Regions from separate parts of the Homo sapiens genome. Here region 2 is linked to region 1. Evidence: fine-mapped expression QTL. A gene starts in region 1. The other region holds a variant in brackets. All regions are shown on one strand. Distances are from middle to middle. Region 1 holds the start of NAV1 (neuron navigator 1). Region 2 overlaps NAV1 (neuron navigator 1).

The links. PIP is the estimated chance that this variant, and not a neighbour inherited with it, causes the effect. A credible set is the group of variants that fine-mapping cannot tell apart.
Region 2: its variant is the best candidate, but not a certain one, in a credible set for the expression of NAV1 in nasal epithelium (TOPMed, PIP 0.63).

What each region holds. Positions count from the first base shown.
Region 1 is chr1:201,536,611-201,541,982 of GRCh38, forward strand. It overlaps NAV1 (neuron navigator 1), which reads left to right and starts at 2,517. Exons shown (of 34, transcript NM_001389617.1): 1 at 2,517-2,732. It overlaps LOC124904484 (a long non-coding RNA gene), which reads right to left and starts at 3,535. Exons shown (of 2, transcript XR_007066793.1): 1 at 3,409-3,535.
Region 2 is chr1:201,745,220-201,750,591 of GRCh38, forward strand. All of the region lies in intron 7 of NAV1 (neuron navigator 1), which reads left to right. All of the region lies in intron 2 of IPO9-AS1 (IPO9 antisense RNA 1), which reads right to left. LOC124904483 (a long non-coding RNA gene) reads right to left here. Exons shown (of 2, transcript XR_007066790.1): 1 at 4,557-5,372. Among named protein-coding and RNA genes, the nearest start is that of MIR5191, 28 kb to the left of the region's middle. The variant C/T (reference allele first, on the strand shown) is at 2,304.

The DNA of each region.
Region 1 (5,372 bases):
GGTCCTTGCCTTTACCTCTTATTGATTTTCATATTTAAGGAAAATCCATTTGCTAGACTCAGAGCAACTGAGTCATCACTGTGTTCAGACAAAAACTACTCACAAAGTAGGCATTTGGCAGAGGCCACTTCTGGGATGGGCGGGACCCTGTTTCTTACCCAAACAGTGCTCTGTCCAGAGTCTCTTCTGGCTTCTCCTCCCTGCCGCTCTGTCCTATCCACTTTCTCTTTCAGTAGCTTTCATATCCTCTGCCTGTCACCCCAACCAGACTGGCCCCTTTACTCCTTCCTCCCTCAACCTGTCCATATGCTATTATGTTTGCCTACACATACAGGTTCACTGTTGGAAATCTGTGAGTGGGACATTTTTCTGAATTTTTATTTTAGATTCAGGGGGTACATATGCAGGCTTGTTACCTGGGTATATTGTGTGATGCTGAGGCTTGGGGTACAAATGATCCCGTCACCCATATTGATTGGGACATTAGGAGCAGGGTGAGGGAGAACTTGTATGAGCAGCCACTCATAAGTGGGAGAGAAATATTGATCCTGTGTACTGATAGAAGAGATCTAACCCTTACGAAATTATAGCTTTGGCTTTCTTTTCCATTCTGGGTAGCACCCAAGGAATGACATCATCCCAGCATTACCAATGTGGATGGGGGCTATGCATCCAGCCTCACAATGGGTCAAGGAGTCATTTCACCTTCTGATAGTCATTTGCATACCTACTGTGTGGTCCTTGGTCCCTGGGGTCCCACCTTTTGAGCTCTCAAGAAAGGACAGTGCTTCTTCTTAAAGGACTAGGCTCCCCTTTGCAGGACTGGGAAGAGCACAAAAGGATTCTAGCTAGCACATCATTGAATGCCAAACTGGGCGCAGAGTTACATCTCCAAGAGTTAGATCTCCAAGAGTTAGATCTCCAAGAGTTAGTTACTCCAAGATCAAAGTAACAGCTAATGTTCACTGAGCATTTACTATGTGCCAAGCACTATTCTAAGTGTGTCACCTATAGTATCGCATTTAATCCTCCCAACACTCTTAGGAGATAGGAACCATTATTATCCCATTTTACAGATAAAGAAACTGAGGTAGCTAGAGGTTAAAGAGTTCAGTAAGTTCCCATGGCTAAAAAATCATTGATCCAGGATTTGAACTCATGCAGTCTGCCTTAAGAGCCCACACTTCTAGTCTTTATACAGAGGGTAAGGGTGTCACTCTGCAGTCCACCCCCTTATCCCGCGCCAAAAGGCAGTTCACTCCCTTCATGGACAAAAATCATACAACAAATCTTTTTCCCTGATCAGTTGGGAACTTCTTGAATGTCACTGCTTGTCCATTGTCTGGTGTCTCATCTCTCCAAATTCAAAGCCACTGTGGCCTTACTGACTGTGTGGGGCGTTCAGGGAGGACTCAAGGGCTCTCATCCTGACTCTGCTCACACTGATTTTGCTGGCAAAGAGCTGTGAGACCTCCCAGGGAGTAGGCAGTTTTGCTTTCTATCCATCAGTCCTCCAACTTGCAACCCCATGGCCCTGGGAATAGATCAGTCCTCTTATTTGTTGGCAGGAGCAGGGGAATCTGCTGGGTCCTTGGCCACAGCTACTCCCTTTCCAAAGCCTGCTTCAAAGCTCAGGTCATCTGGCTTCCTTCTGCCTTCTTCCTGCAGACCCTGGAAGTCCCCAAGCCAGGAGGCAGGGGGCTTGCACTGCTTCTGCAGTAGGTTCTGGCTGAGGGCCTTCCTCCCATTCACTCTCCTCAGGTCCTGTCATTTCCTCTCTCCTCTTCTTCCCCCTCCTCCCACTCCCAAGTCCCTGGAAGAAGGAGGAGGGGCATCGGCTGTCTGGAAGGTGGGGAGAAGTCACTTATTTTACTGAGCACCTACTATTTGCGGGGCACTTGCGGGGCCTCCCCCTCCTCTAAGACAGCTCAGACAGCATGACAGTTCAGTGGGGTGGAGAAAGAAAGGAGGTGGGTGCCCGGGGTCAGAAGTCGGGTGGAGAGGCTGGCCCATCCATCTGTCCCCTTCTCCTAAAGAACTGCGGCTGAACCAGCGAGCGGTACCCGGACGACATGTGGGGGAGGGAGGAAACCCGGCCTGGAAGTGGCGGTGGCGGGTCCCCGGGCAAAGGAAAGGCTCAATTGTGCAAAGGCTTCCTGCCCTGCCAGCTCGCGGGTCCGCCACCGAGCAGCCGCCTTTCTGCGGCCAGCCTGGGAGGCGGGACGGGAAGGCGAAGGCAGCAAAGGGTTACGGGAATAGCTTTCCAATGACAAAGTCTGGAAGGGACCCATGCCTCCGCCCCTCTGCGGGTTAAACTGGCACAGTGCAGGGGGAGGAAAGCCAGGGCGATCGGACGGATTCTCTCCTCCTGCCCGCCCCCCGGCCGCCAGGCACTCCCCTCCTGGGCCCGCCGTGGAGGCAGCCGGCGTGTGCCTGGGGCAGCGGGTCACGAGGCTCCGCCCCGGCCGCCGTTCCCGAGGGGACGGCACTTTGTTCAGGATGCCGCCTCCCTCCTCATTGTGGGGCCGGGGCCGGCGGCTGCCCTAGTGCGGGGCCCGAGGCTGGAGTGCGCGGCGGACGCCAAGCCTGGTGCGAGGGGCCGAGGCGGCCTGGGGAGCCCCGGGAAACTTTGTGCTCGCGAGAAGCGGACCCCGCACCCGCGCTGCCCTTGGGGATGCGCGACTCTGCGCGGCTGCGGCGCGGACCCGGAGCCCGGGCGGGCAGGCGCTCCGGTGAGTGGCCGGCGCGGGGCGGTCGCGCGGTCGCGGCGCTGAGGGTCTGGCGCTTCCCGTTTTGCGAGGCTTGGCTGGCAGGTCCTGCGAGGCCGAGACCAAGTCTCGGGGTAGGGGAGGTTGGTGCCCGAGGGAGGCTGTGGGCTGGGCTCGGGAGAGGCGCTGGAATAAATAACAACCAAGATGCTCGCGGCTTCCCGGGAAGGTGTGTGCCCTTTCGACCCCTATGGGACTGACTGCGCGTTTGATTCTAGAGTTGACTCTCCGGGGGGGCTGCCTAACTTCAGTCCCTCTGAGCCTCAGTTTCCTTGTTGTGAAATACCCACAATTTAAAGTGCGTTGAGATCTTATCATGAGACACCAGGTGCTGCGTTCTTATACTCGCACCCACACGGCAAGCACACACCCTACCCGCACCTCTGCCTTTCGTTGAAGCAAGAGTTAACTCCTCCCATCCCAGCAGGAGCCAGAGGAACAGCTGGGGCAGGTGACCTCGCGGGCCGTTCCAGAAAACGTTCCCCGCACCCCCGGGATGCGCCGGGAAGCGCCCTCCCGCCAATCTCCCGGAGGCCGTCCTCTCTGGCGCCCGCCCAGTGCGTCTGGGAGCGGAGAAAGTGGTCCCGGAGGAGAGGGGAGAGAGGAGAACGCAGAAATTGGGTGATCACGGGGAGCTCACCTGAGCGCTCCCGAGGCTTGGGCTCTGGTCCCTGCTAATCCCCAGAGCCGATAAAAACTGGTCATAGGATAAAGAAGCAGCTAAGTTTGCAGCGGGCAGAGGGGAGGCAGGAACTGGAGAGGACGCGAGTGGCGGGTGGCGGGGGCGGTGTGTAGGGGTGACGTCCACCCGGCAGAGAGGGTTCCTTGTCCCCTGGAGCCGAACACAGGAAAATCAGCTGGTGAGTCAATGGGACTTTGTTAGGATAGTCACAGGGCGCAGCTGGCGCCGGCTTAAGGGAAGAGCTGGATCCCCCCTTGATAACATGCTGTTTATCTGGCTTCCTGTTTCAATGATTGGGATACCATTGGCTCGTTCAAATTCAATGCTGAGAAGCCTGTGGGCACGTTCGTTCACTGTGCAAAAGCAGAGGGCTTGCCTGGGTTTTCATCTGTGGGCTAGCTCTTGTTCCCCCTACATGAAGTCCCCGGCAACTCACTTGTAATGGGACTGGAGACTTCGCAAAAAGAATGGCCTCCCCAGGAGGAGGATCTGACGATCTGACACTGCAGAGACCTTGGCTTCCTTTAGGCCAGAGATATATATGATTCCAGCTTGCTTATGACATTTTTTTAAATCCTGCTTTGACTTTTTGTTGGTGTGTCTTTGGGATTGACCTAAGAAGGGAGACAGAGGGAACAGCTCTATGGATTTTGTCTTCTAAGATGAGCTTCCTAGTAGTATGTGCTTTCACCATCAGTTTTTAGGGGAAGTTTTCAATCATCAGTTTGTAGTTCTCTATCTGGCTGTGTTGCTAACCACCTGGATGATCAGAGAGCAAATAATTCCTCATGTCTCTGTCCTGGTTTTCACTTCTGTAAAGTGGAGCCAGGAAAAAATCGCTACGGTTGGAAGAATAAAGAAGGTTTTTCAGATTTGGGCTCCAGCCCCTAGGGTCTATTTCCTGAACTTTCCAGGTGAAAGAGAACACCAGGTGAAAGAGAACACCATTTCCGGGTGAAAGAGAACAGCCCCTGATCTGAACTTCTTCAGCAGTTTATCTGATTTCCCTTGGGGCAGGTCTCACATTCTGCTTTGCATTTTTTGTTTTTGTTGATTGTCAGTGTGCCATGCTTTGTATTTTAGATATTTGGGTGTTTGTGCACATGCCTATCTTCCTGTGAGTACCTTCCAGCCAAACACCCTATCTGACCACCCACAACACTCAGCACACAGTAGGCACTTTATAGATGCTTGCCAAACTAATAGAATTGGGGAGAAAAACTAAGTAGCATTCAAAGGCCTCCTATCTCATTTAAGTGCCATTTATTCATTCTTTGGGAGTTAATTTGCTCCCCCAGACCCCCTCTACTTCTTTTTCCCTCAAAAGCAGTTCATAAAAATGTTGATTTGCCCATGGGTAAGTAGGCAAGCTTTGAATATTTGGGCTTTTTCTGGGATCTGGCTTCTTTGATAAACCTTGGCCTGGGGAAACTGAAAACAAGAATGCTGTTTTGGCCAGGTGCGGTGGCTCATGCCCGTAAGAGGGGCGGATCACCTGAGGTCAGGAGTTCGAGACCAGCCTGGACAACGTGGTGAAACCCTGTCTCAACTAGAAATATGAAAATTAGCCGGGTGTGGTGGCAGGTGCCTGTAATCCCAGCTACTCGTGAGGCTGAGACAGGAGAATTGCTTGAACCCGGGAGGCAGAGGTTGCAGTAAGCCGAGATCATGCCATTGCACTCCAGCCTGGGGGCCAAGAGTGAAACTCCATCTTTTTTTTAAAGGAGTGCTGTTTTTCCTTTCTTGCCTAATCTAGCCCCCTCCTGAGTCCCTGTGAACCTCTGGTATCAACTCAGTTTGGGCCCAGTAGAAAGGAGTGGCCTAGAATAGAAAAATCTCCTATCCATCTTTTACAATTTGTCTCTATTTTTGCCTTCCTATTTCCAATCAGTGTCACTTCCCTCTTCTTTTAAAGTTCTTTT
Region 2 (5,372 bases), 210 kb after region 1:
TATTGAAAAAGAAAGAATATCAAATATCCCTCCCACACACATGCATATGTACACACATACAAAACAGTCTGGCCACTGGTCCTTAAGTATTGAGCATAATCAAGGAATGCTTGATGTAACCCATGGACTTACAAAGGATATATAGCAAGTATGAATTTCCTCACGAACCAGTTTTCCTACTTAGTGTATTGTTGCAGGTGCCATTCGAATAATGGATGAGTTATTCAAAAGAGGGGAGAAGAGGAAAGTTGTGTACCCACCTCTGATTTCCTGGGTACTGAGCTGGGTGCTTTACAGGTGTTTTCTTTGTTATCTTATTTACTCTGCCAGTTAGCCTGAAAGACTGATGGTGACATGACCATTTTTCTGATGTGTGCATATGTTCAGGGAGGGAAAGTGCCTGTCCTAAGTCAGTCAGTAAGTAGTGGAGCAGAAATTCAAACCCAGCTCTGGCTGGCTATACAGCCACTCCTCCCTAGACTAAATGTAAATCTAAAGAGCTGGGTACTTTCTACAAGCTTGAAAATCAAGTTCCCATTTGGAATGGTCATTTCCTATAAAGAAGAGCTGCTAATGAGGTTCCCCAGCCTCCAGGGAAGTTAATTTTATTGTATTTATTTATTTATTTATTTTGAGAGGGTCTGGCTTTGTCACTCATGTTACAGTTCAGTGGCGCCATCTCCGCTCATTGCCACCTCTGCCTCCCAGCCTCAAGCAATCCTCCCACCTCAGCCTCCAAGCAGCTGGGACTGCAGGTGCATGCCACCATGCTCAGCTAATTTTTTTTTTGTAGAGGCCGGGTTTTGCCGTGTTGTCCAGGCTGTTTTCTAACTCCTGGGCTCAAGCAATCCACCCACCTCAGCCTCCCAAACTGCTGGGACTATGGGTGTGAGCCACCATGCCTAGTCTTGCTTTTAGACATATCTATATATATTTTCCCCATATTTACTCATCATATGGTGATAGTTTTGTCCAATTATAAGTTTCTAGGGGCCAGGGGATTTTATCCAAGTGCAGCATATGTGGAACTTAGTAATGATCTTTTGATGATGACAAAAAATAGCTGATAGGATACCACTGTAAGAGCTAATATAGCTGTACAGCTTTGGACATACCATATTTATGCTGTGTCATGTCACACACAGAGCCCTTCAGATTAGGTTAAATCATGTCACCTGAAACATAACAGGTACATAAAATGGAAGCAAATCCACCAGCAAGTATTTATTCATTGCCTACTATGTGCCAAGAAATTCTGTTAATCACTAAAAACATAACAAAAGACAACCTATTCCCATTCCACACTATGATTAACTTGTAATAGAATTGGATATTTAACAGTTATTGGGGAATAACAGTAGCTGGAAATAGGAAGCAAGCAAGTCAGAAATGTAAGGGAAGATTTATGCCCAGGTCAAGGAGCAGCACGTTAGGAGCGCAGTGAGTGTGGGAAACTCATGGAAGTTCAAATGTAGACTGCATCAAAATTTGGAGAGAATGACCAGGTGCAGTGTCTCGTGCCTGTAATCCCAGCACTTTGGGAGGCTGAGGCAGGTGGATCGCTTGAGCCTAGGAGTTTAAGACCAGCCTGGGAAACATGGGGAAACCTCCATCTCTACAAAAAAATACAAAAAATTAGCCGAGCCTGGTGGCACACGCCTGTAGTTCCAGCTACTCGGGAGGCTGAGATGGGAGGGTCGCTTGAGCCCAGGAGGTCGAGGCTGCAGTGAGCTCCAGTCATGCCAATGCACTCCAGCCTGTGTGACCCTGTCTCAAAAAAAAAAAAAAATGAAGAAATTTGGAGACACTATTCAGGTAGAAGGGAGACTTTCAGGTATGAAGGAGGAAGGAGAAGAACCCTGGGCCTGAGATAAATCTTGAAGAGAATTGATGGGGCAGTGGATCAATAGGTAATGTATAAAGAAATCGGAACATATGGCCCATCCCACTCTGTCATCTTCACCGTCCTCCTGGGCCCCCATTCTCGTGGCTGTGCGGGCAGTTGCCCTAGTGCATGCACACACGGTCCTGCCTGTGTGCATGTGTGCATGTGTGAAACTGTTATTTTTCCGGCTTGGAACATTTTCCCATGGATTATTTTAAATAGTTCTATAAGACTATACTAGACTATCAAGTTTTGATTTTGGTGATCTGCCAACTGTACGATTTTAAAAATAGGTTTTTAACAGCTTTAAAACAGAAGTAGTATTTCTGCCAGCGGGTGGAATTGTGGCTCAAAGGCCCTGAAGGAGAACACATACTTGGGATTTATTCCTGGGTGCCATGGGTTTCTGGAATTTTGC[C/T]CCTAGACACAGTGGCGAAGACAGCAGAGGGTGTTCCAGGGTACACATCCTAGACCCTGCTCCTATTTATTCCCTCTGATACGTGGTTGAAAAGCAGTGCTTGAGTGGTTAATCAGATCCCTGGAAATGGATGCCTCACTCTTGTCTGGAAAAAGTTCCCTAATGAAATCTCTTGTTTACATTATGCTACACATTCATGTTCTGGAAGTTTTTGCCACTTCTTCCCATTTCCTATATTATATATGTATTTGGTGCCCATAATTGGTACTGTTTTTCCCCCATTTAAGCTTCTCTCTTCCTAAATTCTAGATAAACATCCTTGTAGTTTCCAGGCCCTGGGTTGCCAACTCAGATTCCCATGCTTGCTGTCACTGAGTGCTTATCTTGGGATCCTTCTTCCAGAACCCAGAGCTCCTTACGTCAACCCCACCGGAATGGGTCCCCAATATATGGGATTCATGCCGAACAACTTTGCAGACACCTTCTAGGCTAGTGTTGAGCTGACCCTGGGGAAGATTGTAGTTGCCTTTCCCTGGAAAGGCGGCTCTCTGAGTGAGAAAACTTCATAAAGACTACTCTTCTCAGTGCTCATAATGTGTTTTGGAATTATTACCTTTGCAGTATATGAGCAGTATGTTAATTTATTAATTTTCCTTGTCCCATTATTAAAAGGGTCCTCCTCTCTCACTCTTATGAATTAAGTGTGAAGGAGGAGGTATATGTAATAACACCAGCTTTTTCACGTGGTTTATAGCAATTGCTTTCATCTTTTATGGGTGCATCTCATGTTTGCCATGATATTTCAAGTTGTTTCTTTTCTGGGGTTCTCATATGGAAATCCCTGGCAAAGCTGTGCTCCTCCAGCATTAGCATGTGTGCAGTGTTTAGAAAGGGAGATGGAATCTGGGCTGCTGCACTGCAGTTACCTCAGCAGGGAACCTACCAGCCTCCACCAAGCTCTACCCCTGGCCTCAGAACCTCAGGGGGCAAAAGTGGCCAGTCACGTCCTCTGTCTGAGAAACTAGCCATGAGTCTCTTGCAGGAGGGAGGAAATCATTGCTTACTCATGCACAACCTGATTTAGGAGCATTCCTGCTATCTGAGAAACTAATTCTGGGAATTTGCACAGAGCTATTCATTGTAAAAGCAGCTTTGATCCCCAGAGAGTCCACAAGACCTTGGAAAAAAATTTACTGTGCCAGGGAGACAGTGGAGCCTATAGGAGCCCCCTAAAGAAGTTGGGACCCTTGGGTTTGGTGTCTGGTTTTGACGTAGTAGTCTGCTCAGGTAAGGCTCTTAGCTACCCCATGTCCCTTTTATAAAGTTGAACTAAGACTCTCTCTGGCCCAGCGTGGTGGTTCACACCTGTAATCCTAGCACTTTGGGAGGCCGAGGCAGGCAGATCACTTGAGGTCAGGAGTTCGAGACCAGCCTGGCCAACATGACGAAACCCAATCTCTACTAAAAATACAAAAATTATCCAGGCATGGTGGCAGGTGACTACAATCCCAGCTACTCGGGAGGCTGAGGCAGGAGAATTGCTTGAAACCGGGAGGCGGAGGTTGCAGTGAGCTGAAATCATGCCACTGCACTCCAGCCTGGGCAACAGAGTGAGACTCCGTTTCAAAAAAAGAAAAAGACTCTCTCTAACTGAGAACAATTCTACCTGCGAAATAATGTCTTAAAGTTAAATAACGCTGGCCATGTGATTTCAGCCCAATGATTCAGCAATAACAATTATTAGCCTCACTTCCTCATCCCCACTTAGCAAAAAAATTCAGAGGTGAAGCAAAGAGAAATATACTGAAAAGCAGCAAAAGTCAGAAGGGGAGCTGTGATGATGTCTTCAGCCTTGTGAATTTCACTTTTGTCTTTCCAAAATGGTTCTGGGCATCAGATAGAGCACAACCCTTGCACCAACTTGCTCACTATTCCCTCTGACTGTGTGCCTTCTGCACACGGAGCACAGGTTGCCAACAGGCTGCTCTCAAATGTGCCTGCATCCTTCTGCTCCACCAATCAAGTTGAATGCTTTCCTAGAATTGCATTTGCTCCCAAACCTGTTTATGCCAGTTGAACTTGGATAATATAATTATTACATAAATTGATGAAATATGAGCATAAAAAGAAAGTTGTTTCCATAAAGACTATATTGGAAGTTTCAAAAGGGAAATTGCTAGCCTGGGCAACATGGCAAGACCCAGTCTCTCCAGAAAAGAAAAAGCAAAATTAGCCAGGCATGGTGACACATACCTGTGGTCCTGGCTACTCAGGAGGCTGAGGTTGGAGGATCACTTGAGCCTAGGACGTCGAGGCTGCTGCATTGAGCCATGTTCACGCCACTGCACTCCAGCTGAGCAACAGAGCAATTCTCTCTCCAAAATGAAAAGAAAAAAGAAAAGAAAGAAAAGGCATGTTGCTGAGTTATATGTAGGACTTGAAAGGTTAGAGGAGATTATAAAACTCTAGAGGATTTTGCTTTCAGATTGCTTTATGTTGTTAAAATTTTGCTCCACCTTAAAGAAACTGACATTAGACTTGATAATGCACTGTAGGTATGGGTGTGAAGACTCAAGTTGGAAAAGCAGAAGTGTATCAGGAAAAATTCTATTGGTCCTAGTACTTTGAATGACACTGAGGTTCACTGGCAACTTTCTGTGTAATTTTTTATAACAAAGACCTACCGCTGCAAGGATTTTACATGTAATGAGTGCCTAAGGAAGGTATGAAAAACCCTTCCCTGGAAGTCTCCCAAAGCAGAAAAACACCCATTTGCGTGGATGACTTGGTGCATCAGTGATAGGGGAGAAATGACTGAGGTAAACTGTTCATGGTATGAGAGTTGACCAAGTCAGGGTGGGGAGGGGAGGAAGAGGGGCAGGTGGACTTGGTGACTCTGCCTCCCTTTCAAACAGAGCAGCCCTGTGTTTACCTGTTTCATACATTGAGGACTTCTGGTTAAAATGTTAGTAAAAACGATTGCTCTTCTTAAAAAAGGGCTTGCAAGCCACCAGATTAGGTCTTTTCCATGTCTTTCTTTCTCCAAATCTATATGAGATCTAAATAAGC